Homo sapiens: one gene and its partner. The protein of the gene in region 1 purifies or fractionates together with the protein of each later gene. This does not show direct contact. Each region holds a gene or a part of one and is shown on either strand. Other genes may lie near its edges.

What was found. The genes of interacting proteins can lie anywhere in the genome.
Region 2: the proteins of DDX6 (region 1) and NUFIP2 purify together in Homo sapiens (affinity purification with mass spectrometry; 7 studies listed by BioGRID and IntAct, with this or other methods). This does not show direct contact.

Annotation. Positions count from the first base shown.
Region 1 is NC_000011.10:118,781,165-118,789,829, reverse strand, and holds part of DDX6 (probable ATP-dependent RNA helicase DDX6), read left to right. Parts: intron 1-3,311; 5' UTR 3,312-3,578; coding exon 3,579-3,778; intron 3,779-8,645; coding exon 8,646-8,665.
Region 2 is NC_000017.11:29,255,647-29,264,311, reverse strand, and holds the end of NUFIP2 (FMR1-interacting protein NUFIP2), read left to right. Parts: 3' UTR 1-8,473; downstream 8,474-8,665. UniProt on the Homo sapiens protein: Binds RNA.

The DNA of each region.
Region 1 (8,665 bases):
TTAAGAAGGGAGCAGTTATCACATAGTCTCATTTTGGATTTAAGGATATAGGAGGTCTTACTGTGCATGATGGACAGTAATGATGATATCGTTCGGTCTTTAGAGGTTGCCCTTTTCATCCTCTTAGTGCTCTGCAAACAGCTAAGTCTCTGTGAACTGCGTGATATCGCTGATCATAATATAAAACCGTCAATACAGGAAAGTAGCTGTTAACCATATCTGCTTAAGAGGTCAGAGTCTGAAGTAAACAGCTTTGTGTATGTGATAATCAGGATTTGCTTGTGAGCAACTTGTTCATTTTTTTTTTAAGGAAGGCATAATCAAGGAGCATTTTCTTCATAAATGTTGAGATCTGTTGACTTTAAAATTTTGAGTTTCACATGCCTTGGTGTATGGCAGAAAGAATCAGCACTCGTAAGCTAGTGTATTTTATATAAGAAATGTAACGGGGTTGCTGGGAGCGGTGGCTCACACCTGTAATCCCAGCACTTTGGGAGGCCAAGACAGGCGGATCAGCTGAGGTCAGGAGTTCGATACTAGCCTGGCCAACATGGCAAAACCCCGTCTCTACTAAAAATAGAAAAAATTTAGCTGCGCGTGGTGGCAGGCGCCTGTAATCCCAGCTACTCGGGAGGCTGAGACAGGGGAATCGCTTGAACCCAGGAGGCGGCGGTTGCAGTGAGCCAAGATTGTGCCACTGCACTCCAACCTGGGCGGCAGAGCGAGACTCCGCCTCAAAAAAAAAAAAAAAAAAAAAGTGTAACGGGGTTAAATCAAAAGCCAACAGAGTAGGGCTTTGTTTTCGTGTCTTTGTATGTTTTTATTAACTCCAATTAAAAGTAAGATTTCAGCCGGGCACGGTGGCTCTCGCCTGTAATCCTAGCACTTTAGGAGGCTAAGGCGGGCAGATCATTTGAGGTTAGGAGTCCAAGACCAGCCTGGCCAACTTGATAACACCCCGTGTCTACTGAAAAATACAGAAATTAGCCAGACCTGTAATCCCACCAAGCTACTTGGGAGGCTAAGGCATGAGGATCGCTTGAACCTGCGTGGTGGAGGTTGCAGTGAGCTGAGATCGGGCTACTGCACTCCACTCTGGGCAACAGAGTGAGACTCTGTCTCAAAAATAATAGGCCGGGCGTGGTGGCTTACGTCTGTAATCCCAGCACTTTGGGAGGCCGAGGCGGGCGGATCACCTGAGCTCAGTTGTTCAAGACCAGCCTGGCCAACATGTCGAAACCCCGTCTTTACTAAAAATACAAAAATTAGCTGGGCATGGTGGCGCATGCCCGTAATCCCAGCTACTCAGGAGGCTGAGGCAGGAGAATGGCGTGAACCCAGGAGGCGGAGCTTGCAGTGAGCTGAGAGCGCGCCATTGCACTCCAGCCTGGGTGACAGTGCAAGATTCTGTCTCAAAAAATACAATAAAAAATAAAAGTAAGTAAGATTTCCATTTACGGGATAATTTTAAACTGAGGTTGACTAGTTTTGTGGGTTTTGTTTGTTTGTTTGCTTTGTTTGTTTTTAAGTCAGAGTATTGCTCTTGTTGCCCAGGCTGGAGTACAATGGCATGATCTGGACTCACTGCAGCCTCCACCTCCTGGGTTCAAGTGATTCTGCTGCCTCAGCCTCCTAAGTAGCTGAGATTACAGGGCCACCACGCCCAGTTAATTTTTGTATTTTAGTGGAACGGAGTTTCACCGTGTTGGTCAGGTGGTCTTGAACTCCTGACCTCAGGTGATCCACCAGTCTTGGCCTCCCAAAGTGTTGGGATTACAGGCGTGAGCTACCGTGCCCCTCCTACCAGTTCTTTTTTTTTTTTTTAAACTATTAATTAGCTTTACTACTCTGGATTTCTTGGAAAGTTTTCTTAAAATTACTAGTGTGTTTAGTCTTCCGCGGATTTTTTTTTAAACAGGAATTTTCCTGTTTTTTTAAATTTAAAATTAGAATAGTTATTAGCTAAGTTTGTTATAAATGAATAAAATTATTAGAGTCATCTTGGTTTTGTCAATTTCAAAATAAAAATTCATTTATACAAAATTTGTGTATATCATCCGTCCTTGGGATCATTACTTGCTGGATGCATTATGGCAGAAATACACTATTCTCTTGACTGCTTCATTTATTGTTTTAAAGGACAAAAAGGAAAAAAGAAAATACATTTTTCTTCTTAAAGTTTTTTGTTGTTTTTTGAGACAAGGTCTCTGTCACCTGGCTCACTGCAGCCTCCGTCTGCCAGGTTCAAGCGATTCTCGTGCTTCAGCCTCCCAAGTAGCTGGGACTCCATTACAGGTGTGCACCACCATGCCCGGCTAAATTTTGTTTTTTGTTTTTTTTTTCTTGTTTGTTTTTGTTTTTGAGACGGAGTCTGGCTCTGTCGCTGAGGCTGGAGTGCAGTGGCACAATCTTGGCTCACTGCAACCTCCGCCTCCTGGGTTCAAGCAGTTCTCTGCCTCAGCCTCCCAAGTAGCTGGAATTACAGGCGCTCGCCACCACGCCTGGCTAATTTTTGTATTTTTAGTAGAGACAGGGTTTCACCATCTTGGCCAGGCTGATCCTGAACTCCTGACCTCATGATCCACCTTCCTCGGCCTCCTAAAGTGCTGGGATTACAGGCATGAGCCACTGCACCCGGCCTAAATTTTGTATTTTTAGTAGAGATGGGGTTTCGCTATGTTGTCCAGGCTGGTCTCTAACTCCTGACCTCAAGAGATCGCCCGCATTGGCCTCTCAAAGTGCTGCGATTACAGGCCTGAGCCACCAGCACCCAGCCCATAAAGTTTAATAGTTGAAATTTGTAAGGGCACAAAGGTGTTTTTTTCTGGAAGTGTGAAGTTCAAGTCAAAAGCTCACTTAAATCTATAAGGACTCTCGGTTGCTATTACAAGTAGAAGAAAATTAATGAATTGTCTTGTTTAAATTGTGTGATACTTCAGTGAGTTGTAATGCAATTAAGTATAATGAATCACTGACTTTTAGAGATGTCAGAGACTTAGAGAATTCATGGGGAGGAAACTGAAGAGAAGAGATTATCATTGACGAGTAGTGCTAATTTACTAGTCTCTTTCTACTTAATCTCTGGATTGCTTTGAATTAACAATTTTAAATGTTTGATATTGGCCTCATTGTGTTTTTGAGATAGTTCAAAGTTGTGTCTATCCTAGCTTGGCTCGTGATTTGGTCTAAGTGTAGCTGTATTATTAATTCTTTAATATAAAAGATGAGAATTCTTTTAAAGGGGTTCTTTTAAAAGGGAAACAAAGTTTTTCTGTTGTGTTTGCTAATTTAATTTTGTTTGTTTGTTTCAGATTGACGTGAGTGAATTCAGATATAACTCAAGCTTGTTAGAGGGCTTTTTAAAAATAAAAAGTTGATTCCGTGCAAGAGAGCAAGTTACTGCTGCTTACCGTTCAGAGACTTACAGGTGCTTGCCTGCATTGCAATAAAGGACTCATTTATTGAGCAAGACTTATATTTATCTCTTCATTTTGGAGAGCCTAATAAACTGTTATTACAGTTTCTCTACTGACTTTCAAAAGTTTTGAAGTTTGAAAGACCTTTGCAATTAAAACAGCATGAGCACGGCCAGAACAGAGAACCCTGTTATAATGGGTCTGTCCAGTCAAAATGGTCAGCTGAGAGGCCCTGTGAAACCCACTGGTGGCCCTGGAGGAGGGGGCACACAGACACAGCAACAGATGAACCAGCTGAAAAACACCAACACAATCAATAATGGCACTCAGCAGCAAGCACAGAGTATGACCACCACTATTAAGTAAGTGTTAGAGTAAATTATTAATAAACACTTGTGGGGAACCAAGATTTGTGTTACTTTGGTGTTGACTATTAATACTTATGCCTTAATTTAACCATTTTGATTCCAAATAGAGGACAGATGACTTTGTTTTATGGCCAGTAGGTATTTGCAATAGAATAATATATTTCTGCCATAATTTGTTCAGCAAGTAGTCATCCTGAGGTCAGATGATACACACAAATTTTGTATAAATGGTTTTTGGAAACATTTCTGGCTTTCATAATTAGTGTAAAAGTTATTAGCTTAGTTTGTTGTAAATGAATAAAATTATTAGTCATCTCGTTTTTGTCAGTATAGTTTTTTTACGACTGCACCTTACCCTAGTTAAACAGCAGATAAAGCCAACTTTATGTATTAAATTTAAAGACTCAGTCTGAGTCTTTAGAGTCTTTAAAGACTTGCCCAGCCTTCTGAACTCCAAGCATTATTCACTCAGAAAATTTTCTCGTAACTTTTTTTAGCTTATGGAACTTAGCTTTTTTACTTTAAAAAAAAAAAAAAGTTGGCTGGTTGAGGTGACTCATGCCTGTAATCCCTGTACTTTGGGGAGGCCAATGTGGGAGGATCACTTGAGTCCAGGAGTTTGAGACCAGCCTAGGCAACATAATGAGACTCTGTCTCTACCCAAAAAAAAAATTTTTAATTTTTTTCCTCCTTTTACATATAAAAAGGGAACTAAGAATTTTGAACTCACAGAACACAGTTCTGAACAGTCTCAGAAACCTTTTGTTAACCTTAAAATTGAAGAGCCTCCTCTTACTAGAGGATATTTTTTCTTTTAAAGCTGAAAGTATGTAGGCTATTTGTTACTTTTAAGTGCATAGTTTAAATTACAATATTTGAATGGTAACCATCACTTTAAAGATTCAGTTATAGGAAATTAACATTTAAGATTCTTGACTCCAGTTGATGTTTGGCTTTTGTTAAGAACTTGCCATATAGGTCCGGGTGCAGTGGCACACGCCTGTAGTCCAAGCACATTGGGAGGCCAAGGTGGGCGGATCACCTGAGGTCGGGAGTTCGAGACCAGCCTGACAAACATGGAGAAACCTTGTCTCTACTAAAAATAAACCCCGTCTCTACTAAAAGTACAAAATTAGCTGGGCGTGGTGGCACATGCCCATAATGCTACTTGGGAGGCTGAGGCAGGAGAATCACTTAAACCCGGGAGGCGGAGTTGCAGTGAGCCGAGATTGCACCATTGCACTCCAGCTTGGGCAACAAGAGCGAAACTCCATCTCAAAAAAAAAAAAGGCCAGGTGCGGTAGCTCACGCCTTTAATCCCAGCACTTTGGGAGGCTGAGGCAGGTAGATCACGAGGTCAAAAGTTTGAGGCCAGCCTGACCAACATGGTGAAACCCTGTCTTTACTAAAAATACAAAAATCAGCTGGGTGTGATGGCATGCGCCTGTAATCCCAGCTACTCAGGAGGCTGAGGCGGGAGAATCACTTGAACCCGAGAGGTGGAGGTTGCAGAGAGCCAAGATCGTGTCACTGCACTCCAGCCTGGGCAACAGAGAAATACTCCATCTCAAAAAAAAAAAAAAACTTGCCATATAAAATAATTTAACCCTGGGAATCTTTATAAGATGTTGACACTGGGTTACTGAACTGAGGTATATGTTTTATTACAACCTAGATCTTTTCACTTCCTACAGAAAAATAGCTTATACAAGCTACCAGACTGTCATATAGTTACCGTATGTGGTTCACTAGGACCTCTAAGAACTAATTTTCAGCAGAATTGGTTAGGTCATTGGGAGAATTGGTATTAGTGTATATTCTGTTATTTTTAAGGTGAATGCTTTAATTGGTATAGAAATGAATACTACTTCAGTTGTAGTTTGTCTTGGCAGAATGTAAGTAGGTTAGCAAAATTTAGACTATTTTTAATTTTTTTTATAACTTTTTTTTTTTTTTTTGAGACAGGGTCTCACTTTGTTGCCTAGGCTGGAGTATGGTGGCACGATCATGGCTCACTGCAGCCTCAACTTCCCAGGCTCAAGTGATCCTCCTGCCTCAGCCCTACAAATAGTGGGGACTACTGGCATGCACCAGTAGCGACGGCGTTTTGTCATGTTGCCCAGGCTGGTCTGGAACTCCTGAGCTCAAGTGATCTGCCCACCTCGACCTCTCACAGTGCTGGGATTACACATGTGAGCCACTGCGCCCAGCCTATTTTTAATTTTTTTTTTTTTTGAGATGGACTCTCACTCACTCTGTTGCCCAGGCTAGAGTGCAATGGTGTGATCTCGACTCACTGCAACCTGCACCTCCTGGGTTCAGTTCAAGCCATTCTCCTGCCTCTGCCTCCCAAGTAGCTGGGATTACAGGTGTCCACCATCACGTCTGGCTAATTTTTGTATTTTTAGTAGAGATGAGATTTCATCATGTTTGCAGGCTAGGCTTGAATTCCTGACCTCAGGTGATCTGCCTGCCTCGGCCTCCCAGAGTGCTGGGATTACAGGCGTGAGCCACTGCACCTGGCCTATGAGAATATTTTCTATTTAAAAAATTCTGGGGCTGGATATGATGGCTCATGCCGTTCATCCCATCACTTTGGGAGGCTGAGGTGGGAAGATCACTTGAGGCCAGGAGTTTGAGACTAACCTGGGCAACATAGCAAGACCCTGTCTCTACAAATAATAAAGGCTGCAGTGAGCTATGATCGCACCACTGCACTCAAGCCTGGGTGACAGGGTAAGACCCCATCTCAAAGAAATAAAAAATAAATTCTGATTTGGGGACAACAGTGGATTTTGATTTTTCTTTTCTGGTTTTCCTACGATTAATGGTTTCTTTTCAGTTCTGCGGTTCTTCAAATCTCATTTTCTCTGCCCTCTCTTCCATGAAGTCCTCTAGATCCCATCAAGTGTCTCAGAACACTTCTAATACTTAACCTCCGTCACTTACTTTCTCATTTTAAATAGTTTTTTCATCTCATAAGATTATAAATTTCTTGTGGTCAGGTTTTGCATTGTATCTTACGCATTATTATTCACTATTTTGTTGAATTCAACGGTATGTCAAACTGACATCAGAAACTTCGATGATACAGGCTTAGATGAAAGGCTTTAGTAGGCCGGGTGAGGTGGCTCACGCCTGTAATCCCAGCACTTTGGGAGGCCAAGGCAGGAGGATCACGAGGTCAGGAGTTTGAGACCAGCTGAATCCCCGTCTCTACTAAAAATACAAAAACTAGCCAGGTGTAGTGGCAAGCTCCTGTAATCCCAGCTGCTCTGGAGGCTGAGGCAGGAGAATTGCTTGAACCCCGGGAGGTGGAGGTTGCAGTAAGCCGAGATCATGCCACTGCACTCTAGCCTGGGTGACATAGCAAGACTCCATCTCAGAAAAAAAAAAAAAAGGCTTTAGTACAGTAGTAGTCTTGGAATTGGTAGCAAAAAGTTACCAATGTTAGAGTATGCATTATGTAGGACCTAGTTTTAAGTAAAATAAGTGGTCTTTTTGTCTGTGAATGGAGCATTTGAGATGTTTTGGGGACTCTGGTTATGTAAGAACAGCTGCAGTGAAAACTTTTTCGAAGATGTCACAGTTAAATACTTTGTCTGCAGATGTTCCCTGATCTTTTTTTTTTTTTTAAAGATGCTTTGAGTATTTATTACTTGAGGTTTTTACCTGGCCAAAAAGAGAGTTTATTTATATTCTCCTTGTTTTTATTCTCTTTCATGATTTCTAGCATTTCCAATAAAAAAGAAAGATTAAGAGATGCTCATTGGCTAATACTGTGCTATTATTTTGCCAGGCACTGTGCTGAGTGCATTATATCAATTGTTTGATGTAACTGTTAACCTATTTTGTTTTATTTATTTATTTGGAACGGAGCCTTGCTCTGGCGCAGGATCTTGGCTCCCGGGTTCAAGCAATTCTCCTGCCTCAGCCTCTTGAGTAGCTGGGATTACAGGCACATGCCACCATGGCTGGCTAATTTTTGTATTTTTGGTAGAGAGTGGGTTTCACCGTATTGGCCAGGCTACTCTCGAACTCCTGACCTCAGGTGATCCGCTTGCCTTGGCCTCCCAAAGTGTTGGGATTACAGGTGTGCGCCCACCTTATTTATTTTTGAGACAGAGTCTCCCTCTGTCACTCAGGCTGGAGTGCAGTGTCGTGAGCTTGGCTCACTGCAGTGTCCGCCTCCCAGGTTCAAGTGATTCCCCTGCCTCAGCCTCCCGAGTAGCTGGGACTACAGTTGTGTCCCACCATGCCTGGCTAATTTTTGTATTTTCAGTAGAGGTGGGGTTTCACCATATTGGCCAGGCTGGTCTCGAACTCCTGACCTCAAGTGATCCGCCCACCTTGGCCTCCCAAAGTGCTGGGATTACTGATGGGAGCCACCACGCCTGGCCTGTTAACCTATTTTAAAAATGAGAATAGCCGGCCATGGTGGCTCACACCTATAATCCTATCACTTTGGGAGGCCGAGGCAGGTGGATTTCTTGAGCCCAGGAGTTATATAAGATATATAAAATCTTACAGTTTTTAAATGTTGAGAACTAATTTAAACTCATTTAAATTAAAACACATGCTGTGTAGGTCAAACAAAACACCTTTTGACAACAGTTACACTGTATACAATATTGCTTAAGAGGATGGATGCCTTAATCCCTTCTGTTCTTGATTTTTTTATCCTCCTGAGATTCTCTATAAGAACACTTTTTCTAAAGTTGTTTAATTATCTTGTTAGATATATTAAATGGAATATATTAAACTTACTGTGCTTTTTTAACACTTAATTATAATTGAGATGAATCATCTTTGTTAGGATGCTATGAATTTTGATACTTCAAGTTTACTGTATTCTCTCTAGACCTGGTGATGACTGGAAAA
Region 2 (8,665 bases), on another chromosome or scaffold:
CTACACATGGTTATTTAATCTCCGGTACTGAATAGGTTTTTTTTCTTCTGTTAGTTTTTGTTTTTAAGTGTGAATGCAAGTGATTAATGAATACAGACTTAACAAGTGTGGTTCTAAAGTTCCTGCTGTCATCAACTTGGGCAACAAATGACCCACTGGAAAGGCAAATCCACTTAAAAGATCTCTGTATCTTGTTCTGTGACTGAAGTGATACACTAATCACGGGGAACCCAGAATGATTCAACATTTTCCCCCCACTCCTCCCTTGATCTTTTTGGTTTTACTTTAATTAAGCCCTGCGAGAATGCTGGATAAATGCCTTGAAGTTAGCAGGGTGTATTTTTTTAGCGAATATGATTTGCATGTCTTGCCAGGAGTTAAGCGGCCTCTGGGGTGTTGGGGAAATACTTTATTTCTTTCCATTTATTTTTTGTGGGGCGGGGATAGGGGAGGGCATTGAAGTTCTACAATTCTGGAATAGTTAGTTGATGGTACATAGTTAACTTGGCTTCGGTTACATATTGGACTTTAACAACTGAAGAATCTATGCGTGTCATTTAAAGAAAAGTTGCAGAACAAGCAATTGGCTTAGATATACAATCTGGAAAAATATTCCTGTGCCCATATTTTAATGTAATTGTATAACTGGGAGCAAAAATATATTCTGCTTTTCAACTGTAGGTGCTCCAGACTTGCTCTCCGTCACTAACACTAAATGTGCTGTTTTCCTTGTTTTTCATCAAACATTTAAGACAAACTTAGACCTTTCTGTAAATTATCTTTTAATTTCTCAGCAAAATCTAAAAGGGGAAGAAAAAAGTCCATGAAAACTAAAACTTTTCATGTTTTTAGCCAGTGAGAAGATAATAAACCCTGACTGTAGAAGGTGTGTTTTCATGCAAACTATACTTCTGAGCTTGTTAGCTTCTAATTATATCTTAATAAATATATTTTATTACTAGAGCAAGATGGGTTTTTAAGGAAAATAATGTGAAATTCTGGAAATTTTCTTTGGGGCAGAGAAGAGCATTAGCCCTGTCTTATCATTACATTGCCATCCTGTTGCACTGCAGCTTGTGTATAGCATGCTAAAATAAATTTTTGTGTGTGTGTGCAGAAATTAAGGGTCCAATTGAGATTGGGTGATGTTAGTAACATAATAACAAGTTGTCTGGCCTGACACAGCATCACATCACACACACAGAAATTAGTATATCCATGTATGTCAAATACAGGTTAAAATATCAGGGCATTTATATAAAGAGTTGTAGTCTTCTGATAAAAGTAGACTGGATCCCCTGGGGTATTTGGGGAGAAAGTAACTACTTTGGCTCTACCCCTAGAAATGTCCAGTTTTGAGTGACTGTAGTATGGATGGGTTTTCTTGTTTTGTTGATTATTTGAGGCTTTTAAAACAAGTAGTTCATGAAAGAAGCTGTTGGACTCAACATAGAGTAGAGTAACTATCTTTTTAGTCTGGATTTCTGCCCTGCTTAGATTTTAAAAGTATAAGCATGGATTGCCAATTCCACTTGATGTAAACAAAACTTTTTTTTATACATAATATATATATATATATATAAAATAACTTATTGTATCAGTCCAGGTTCAGAAACTTGTGGTAGGCCAGTTCCAGATAGTTTCATTTCACCTGTAAACTGTATCACTTTGACTGATATTGTAATTTTCAAATGTATAATATGTTTACAGATGTGCCCTGCATTTAGTCTGCCTTGTTCCTATTTTGATTTTTGTTGAGTCTCCTGCCTGCTTGCCAAAAGCTAGGATGCTTCAGGCCCATGTACAATTGAAAGCAGAGGCATCCTTGAGCTTTAAAGCATTGAACAAACTGGAAAATGCAACATACCACATAACTGAAGTGAAAAAAGTCTGTGTTTTTGTGTTTTTTTAAATAAAAATTTTCAAAAAGTTAAAAAAAAAGACATATAAGGTTGATTAAAGGGAAAAAAGGCTCCAGTTTGTTTTACAGGTTTTAAAGTTCTGCTGTGTGTTCAATTGCCTTGTGTAACCACTTGTCGCCTTAGGGCCAGATTCCCCTCTCTAGTCCCCTTTTTTAAATGTCCATTTTGCTTGCCTGGAATTTTAAAGTTCTTCCGTCTCACAACTCACAAGAAACTTTCTGGGTTTGTGACATACAGAGGTTGAATTGAGTATATATTTGAAAAGGAAAAAACAAAAAACAAACCCAGACCCCACCTGAATTGGGCTTTTTAACTTAGAAGCAACACTTGATTAAACATCTTTAGAAAGCTATTGCTTTTCTAATTTCCTTCCATATCCCTCAGGCCTCAGTGTTCAGAGAAGCCAAAAAGAATGTATCACTTCTCTGTCTGTCCAAAGGTTTTTGAGAGTCTCACTTCTAAATGAAACAATGCAACATTTCACTTTGATTTCTCCACTGAAATTTCCTTGATTATATGGTTAGAGGTATGTAGTTAGGAATGTCTGTTAACTTTCTGAGAACCCTAGTGCCCCATCATATTAACTGTCAGTATTTTGGGGGCATTAGGTTAATAGACTTAATTGCCTAGGTACAAGCAGGACTTTGGGACAAATCTCTTTGTGCTGTTTGGTAACACTTAACTCTATTTGTTGCAATCTTTCTCCTTAGGTCCTCACACAATTCCTTACAGAGCACTTATTAAAAAAAAATCTTAAGAGTTGATCTGTTTTCTGATTATTTTGTGTAAGCTTCTAAACAAACTTCAGCTGTGATTAATTTAGCACATTTAAATAACGTGTTATTGTTTGGTATAAAGAATTTTCCTTCAACTCAGAGTATTAGTACTGTAGCATAAACCAAATACAGTCTAGAGGGGATTTTTAACATCCCTCCATTATAAAGACTGAAAAAGGGGTGTGTGTGTGTGTGTGTGTTTATGTATGTATGTATGTGTGTGTGAGGAAAAGATGGAGATATTAAAAATTAGTAAATGAATGTGTATAAGACATTAGTATTCAGAGAATGAACTTGTATTTATTTTGTGCCATTTGTTTTCATTACACAGAAAAAAGTCAGGTGGTTTAAATCCTTAAAAGGGTAGTATTGAAAAATGGCACTAAGAATGAAATTATGACCTATTTTTTTAATAGCTATGAAGATACTAATTATGGGTGAAGATTTCTTTTTAAATCTGTTTTGATTATTGTAGGCTTCTGTGTCACATACCACTCTTGTAGGTGTCCTCAATAATCCCCTTTTCCCACAAAATACACAGGGTGTATTATCTTTCTCTTTATTCACCCCCACTTTGCTGAACTGAAGTTAATTACATAGCCTTTCTTCTAACCTCCTTAGTAATGAACCTTCACATAAAGTGTATTTACAGCGTCTGTGGTAGCCAGCCCTTCCTCCTCTACTTTCTAGGAGGGGATAGCCAATAACTAGGAATTTAATGACAGATTTTTTTTTCTTTGAAATAAATGGCCAGAGTTTCTCCATTTTAGAATTTTGTTGTCCTCCTTAATCATCTGCTTACCTAGTCATTACTCAATCTGCAGAAACTTCATAAAGGAAAAGTGCTGCATTGTTTTTACAAATAACAGTTTGTAGGGAAAATATGACAAACCTCAACTATGGGAGTTGTCCACAATACAAAATTTTGAAAAAACATTACATAGTGATAATATCATACTTGGTTGTTAGGCTTGTTGCTTCCCCACATCAGAGGCATCTAATGATTTATCTTTTGTAATTGCTGTGAACTTTTTTAAATAAGCCATTTAGTGTGAAATTGTCATGTATCAAATGGCTATTGGAAATGGACTTTACTCAATTTTAATTCCACTGTAAATAAGGACGGAGTCATTCCTACAAGGCTCTCTTCAGAGAAATAGATTAAAAGTCCAATTTCCAGGTATTATTAGTATAGTTATGCCGCTGGGCCACATCCTCAACAACAGCTGATCCCTCTTGTATAAATATGTTAACTGTGCAGAACAGTTATGTTATGGGACAAATATAATGGTCATTATGGTCAGATTGGTTGATGCCACACCAGTCAAGGTAGAGTCTGATAGGGCAGTATCTTAATAACCCTACCCATGACTTAACTGTTGGATTTGAAAGGAAAACGTAGGATTTGCTCTTGTCCCCTTACCCGCCACAAAATTTTGATAATTTGTTTAAAAGGGAGAGGCAGAGGAAAAGACTAGAAGCATAAATAGCTGCTTTAGGTTTGCCAGAGGCACATAGCTTAACATTAGTTCTTAATATCGATGTTATTTTTACTAATGTAATTAATCAACAGAGCACCAAGATTCTTTCATGGTGAAAAGGGTGGGCTTCTGTTTTGGTATCTTAAAATGTTTCTTTTAAAATATACATCACCTGTGTGAGAACCAGGACCACCTGGGAGAGTGATGAATCATTGGCTCCACTCAAAAGCATTGCTTTACTGAGTTTTAAATTTCACACTGTTTTGCCGCTCAAGAAAGGTCTTAAAGTAGTTAAAGGATGCCAGCAATAGTGCGAATAGAATTTTCGGTTGTCTGCATAATAAAAACACCCATTGCAGCATGATTGGTATGTTGCTCTTGCATTATTGGGAATGGTAAATCAGTTATGGGCTAGAAACTATGGAATGGCCGTCCTCATATGTGATGGGATTGCTGATTCAGACTTCCCTATTTTCCATACAATTTTGTTATGTGCAGAGTTCTAAAGCCATTTTATAATACTGCAGTATCCCCCCCCCCCCCACCTTTTTTTTTTTGAGACGGACTGTCTGTTGCCCAGGCTGGAGTACAGTGGCGCAATCTTGGCTCACTGCAACCTCCACCTCCCTGGTTCAAGCAATTCCCCTGCCTCAGCCTCCCATGTAGCTGGGATTACGGGCGCACACCACCACACCTGGCTAATTTGTATTCTTAGTAGAGACGGGGTTTCACCATGTTGACCAGACTGGTCTCGAACTCCTGACCTCAGGCAATCTGCCCGCCTCAGCCTCCCAAAGTGCTGGAATTACAGGTGTGAGCCACCGTGCCCGGCCAAGTATCTCTTTTCTACAGCCTTATTAAACTAACTACAAACATTTATTTTCCAATTTAGTTTTACTTTCAGTGCATATCAAAGTTGTTGTACTCTTCAGACCAACAAATTAACTTGAGGGCAAATTACATAGCTTTCCATGTACCCTTTTTTCCTCAGGTGCTAATCAAAGGCTCTGAAAATGGATACTGCTTTAGTGATGTCTGCTTTATTCTTAAAATGCTTATTTCTTTTGCTAGATGTAAAGATTTGGTGTTAACAAAAGTGGTTTTAATATGTAAATATGAATGAATGCCTTTAGTTTACCCTGTTTGTCTATTATTAATCTGTTTTCATTTATCCTTCATAGAGGAGGATCCTTTCATGATCTTGAATACATTTCATTAGATATTGTTGCATTTTAAGAATGAAAATACAACTGTTTTCTGTCTTAGATTAATCCTGCTGCTATGAGAAACTGAAAATCAAGAATGTGATGCACTTTTTACATTACTATATACCATACATATACCATAGGTTGCTTTGATACCTTTCCTGTAGCACAGCCACTAACAAGAGTGAATGAATTATAAAATTCTTTTTGGGAGGGAATCAATACAAGTAACTAATTCTTAGCTGATATTGTCCTATGAAGGACAATAACTTAGGAATATAAGAATTCTGTTAATAGTACACTTTTTGGCCTTAAATGTCTTCTACTACTGAAAATAGTTTAAATCTTAGCTTTGTTTCTATTATTCCCTCTCTCTGCCTCAGAAAGAGGAATTGGGAAGAATGGCTTAAAGGACGTGGTGTCATTGATTTGTTGCTGATCTTTTAGAAAACATTTGTCTATGTAAGCTGGGGACTTATTTTTTGTTTGTATATAGAGGGGAAATAGTGCTGCCCTGAACCAATCAGATTTAGTTTAAATCAAATCAATCAAAACTCCAGCTGTTTCTCTTGTCTTTTTACTTAGCAAAGGAAAACTTTAGTGAATGCTACTTGACAAGAAGAAAAGTCATTTCTCAAGCACATACCCAAACTTGAAGGTGATTGAACCCAAAATAATGGGTGGGAAACACCAAATGAGGTGGAGGAATGAGAAAGATGTGTGGGCCAAAGCTATCTGGTTATATTTTGATGTTGCCAATATCGCAAAGCCAAAATTTTAATTTGCTTATTTAATATATTTGTTGGCCAGAGATCTATTTTTATATCAATGTGCCTTGCATGTATATTAAAAAAAAAAAATTGGAAACGCCATGTAGTAATGCCTGAGATAGTCGATGGTTCTTACCACCTCACTAATTTTTATGCAGTATGAAATGCTCATTCTATTGCCCAACTGGTGCTCTCTGTTTAAAGTTACAGATCTTGCGAAACTGGAACTATTTTATAAGCTGGGGAAGTGATTTACTTTTTTTGTTGTATCTTTTTTGTTCTTAGTCTGTTAGTGGCTGTCCTGTAGTGGGAAATAGTAAAAGGATTCTTCACTCCCTTCTCCCCTCAGCACCTTCTTCAAGTAAACATTTCTTGTGTGCTTTGAAAAAAGTTTCAGCTTGCTGTCTCTTTTAGTGTTTTAAAGAAGTGTTATACAAAGCATTGTTTGCAAAATATAGGGAGATAATGGAGTCCACTTTAATTTGGAATTCTGTGTGAGCTATGATCCAAGTTATCAGCTCTTTCCAACTTTAAAAATTTTGTTAAAAGCACCTTGCTTAGAAAATTTTAAATATTTATGTCTGCAACAATTGTCTCAAAATAATAAACTGTGCAATTCTTGTCATTAAAAAAAAAAAAGATCTGAATTTTCCCTAATGTGACTTGTTAGTTTCTCTCTGTATTTCCTGCCAGTGTAAATGTGAAAGCTTTGCTTGCATTACGTTTTAGAAATGCATTTTGCACACTCGAATTTTGCCGAAGCTCCGTGAAAAGGTTAGATCTAAGTAGATGAATAAAGCTATGCACATGTTTTGAAAGTTTAATTTGTGTGTCATTACCAAAAGTGACCGATTTGTCCTTACTACTTTGCTGTTGTTAGCTTTACCATCTTTGGAAACTTGGCTCAAAGTTACATAGTTCTGGGCTAGCTCATCAGTGGAACTAGGAGAGAGGAAAACTGGCACCTATTTTAATAAAGTTCAATTTAAACGAGAGCTTGACTTGTATCTATTAAAGAGCTTTTCTTGAAACAGGGCAGTTTTATCAGCTTTACAAATCATTGGATGCTCTTCCTTAGTAATATTTTGGTTTATTTGATCAAATAGAAATGGAAAGTAATTCAAACTGAAAGACCCTTTTTTGTCATATGGAACTTGGTGACGATTTTTTGTCTTAAAGCTGGTTTAAAGGTAGGATAGGCTTTTACCTTTATTGCTTTAGCATAAATTTGGTTTACTGAATTGACTGGCTTGAGATTAGAATTATTCAGTTGTTTGTAAGATCAAAGCACTGGTTGTTTTAAAGATAACGTGTATCTTTTAAAAAATTGCCCAAGCTGATTAGAACAAGTTTAGGAGTTGGGTACATTTGGTTCAAGTGCTGCAATCTGTATGTACTAAATAGCTTTACTTTGTGTATGTGTACTTATAATGTGTAGATGTACTACTACCCAGGTTTTGTCAAATCATCTTTTTTAAAGTTTTTTTTTTTTTAATTGGTTCAGGACCTTTGTAGGAGAGGCTAATATGTTTAAGTAGAAGATATTACTGATAGCATTTTCCCCATGCTCCTACATAAAAAATAAATATTTCCATTTTATAGCTTTTTCAATATACAGAAGAGGGTTACTTCTTCATCAAGTATATTGTTGCCTTTGAGGACACAGCAAAACCCTTCTATATGTATCTTCATTGATAGTGGCAGTTAAAAACTAAGTTATCCAGTTAAGACTTAAAAGGTGACCCATATTAATTGCATGGCCTTAAAAGGCAGAAATGCAGGAGTGTAGCAAGCATCATTTTAGATGGCTATGGTTCCTCTTCCGCATCTGTCAGTAGTTCACTTATGTTCAGTCTTAGAACCTACTGGAGGAGTGAAGTAATTTCTCTGTCTCGTGCAGAGGCACTAAGGAGCTGAGTTACCTCTTAATCTGGGGGAATGGATAATAAGTGGAGTACAGTTATGTTAAAGGATGTTCCCCCCGCTCAAAAAAAAGTTTCAATGTTTGTTTTGCCCAGTCAAAAATATAGGTCTTTTCTACATATAAGAACAGTCACCAGAAATTTTCCCTTTTGCTAAATGCTTAGGTATTTGCTATAGCTGTTTCTGATGTCATGGATTCTGAGGAAGTGTCATTTACGTGATGATCTTCCTTTATTGATGTCTTCATCATGTTCAGTGTTTTAAAAATATAAATTACAAACACTCTACAACCATACCCAGATTTACTTATTTTATCAGAAAAAAAACTTGAGAAATTTGTAGATCAAATTGAGAGACAATAAGTGTACATTGTTGAATAAAAAATTTTAAAGTTTCTGAGGTGTTTGTTATCTTTTGTGTGCTTTAATTTTTTAAAAAGTCTTTACTGACTAATCTTAAATTCAGCTGATAAAAAGTAAAAAGAAAAACAAACCGAAAACTAAGTTTGTGACATTGATAATGATTTTTTTCCAAAGGGTCAAATATGTGAAGAATTTAAGTCTTCAGTATACTATGGTCCTATGATTT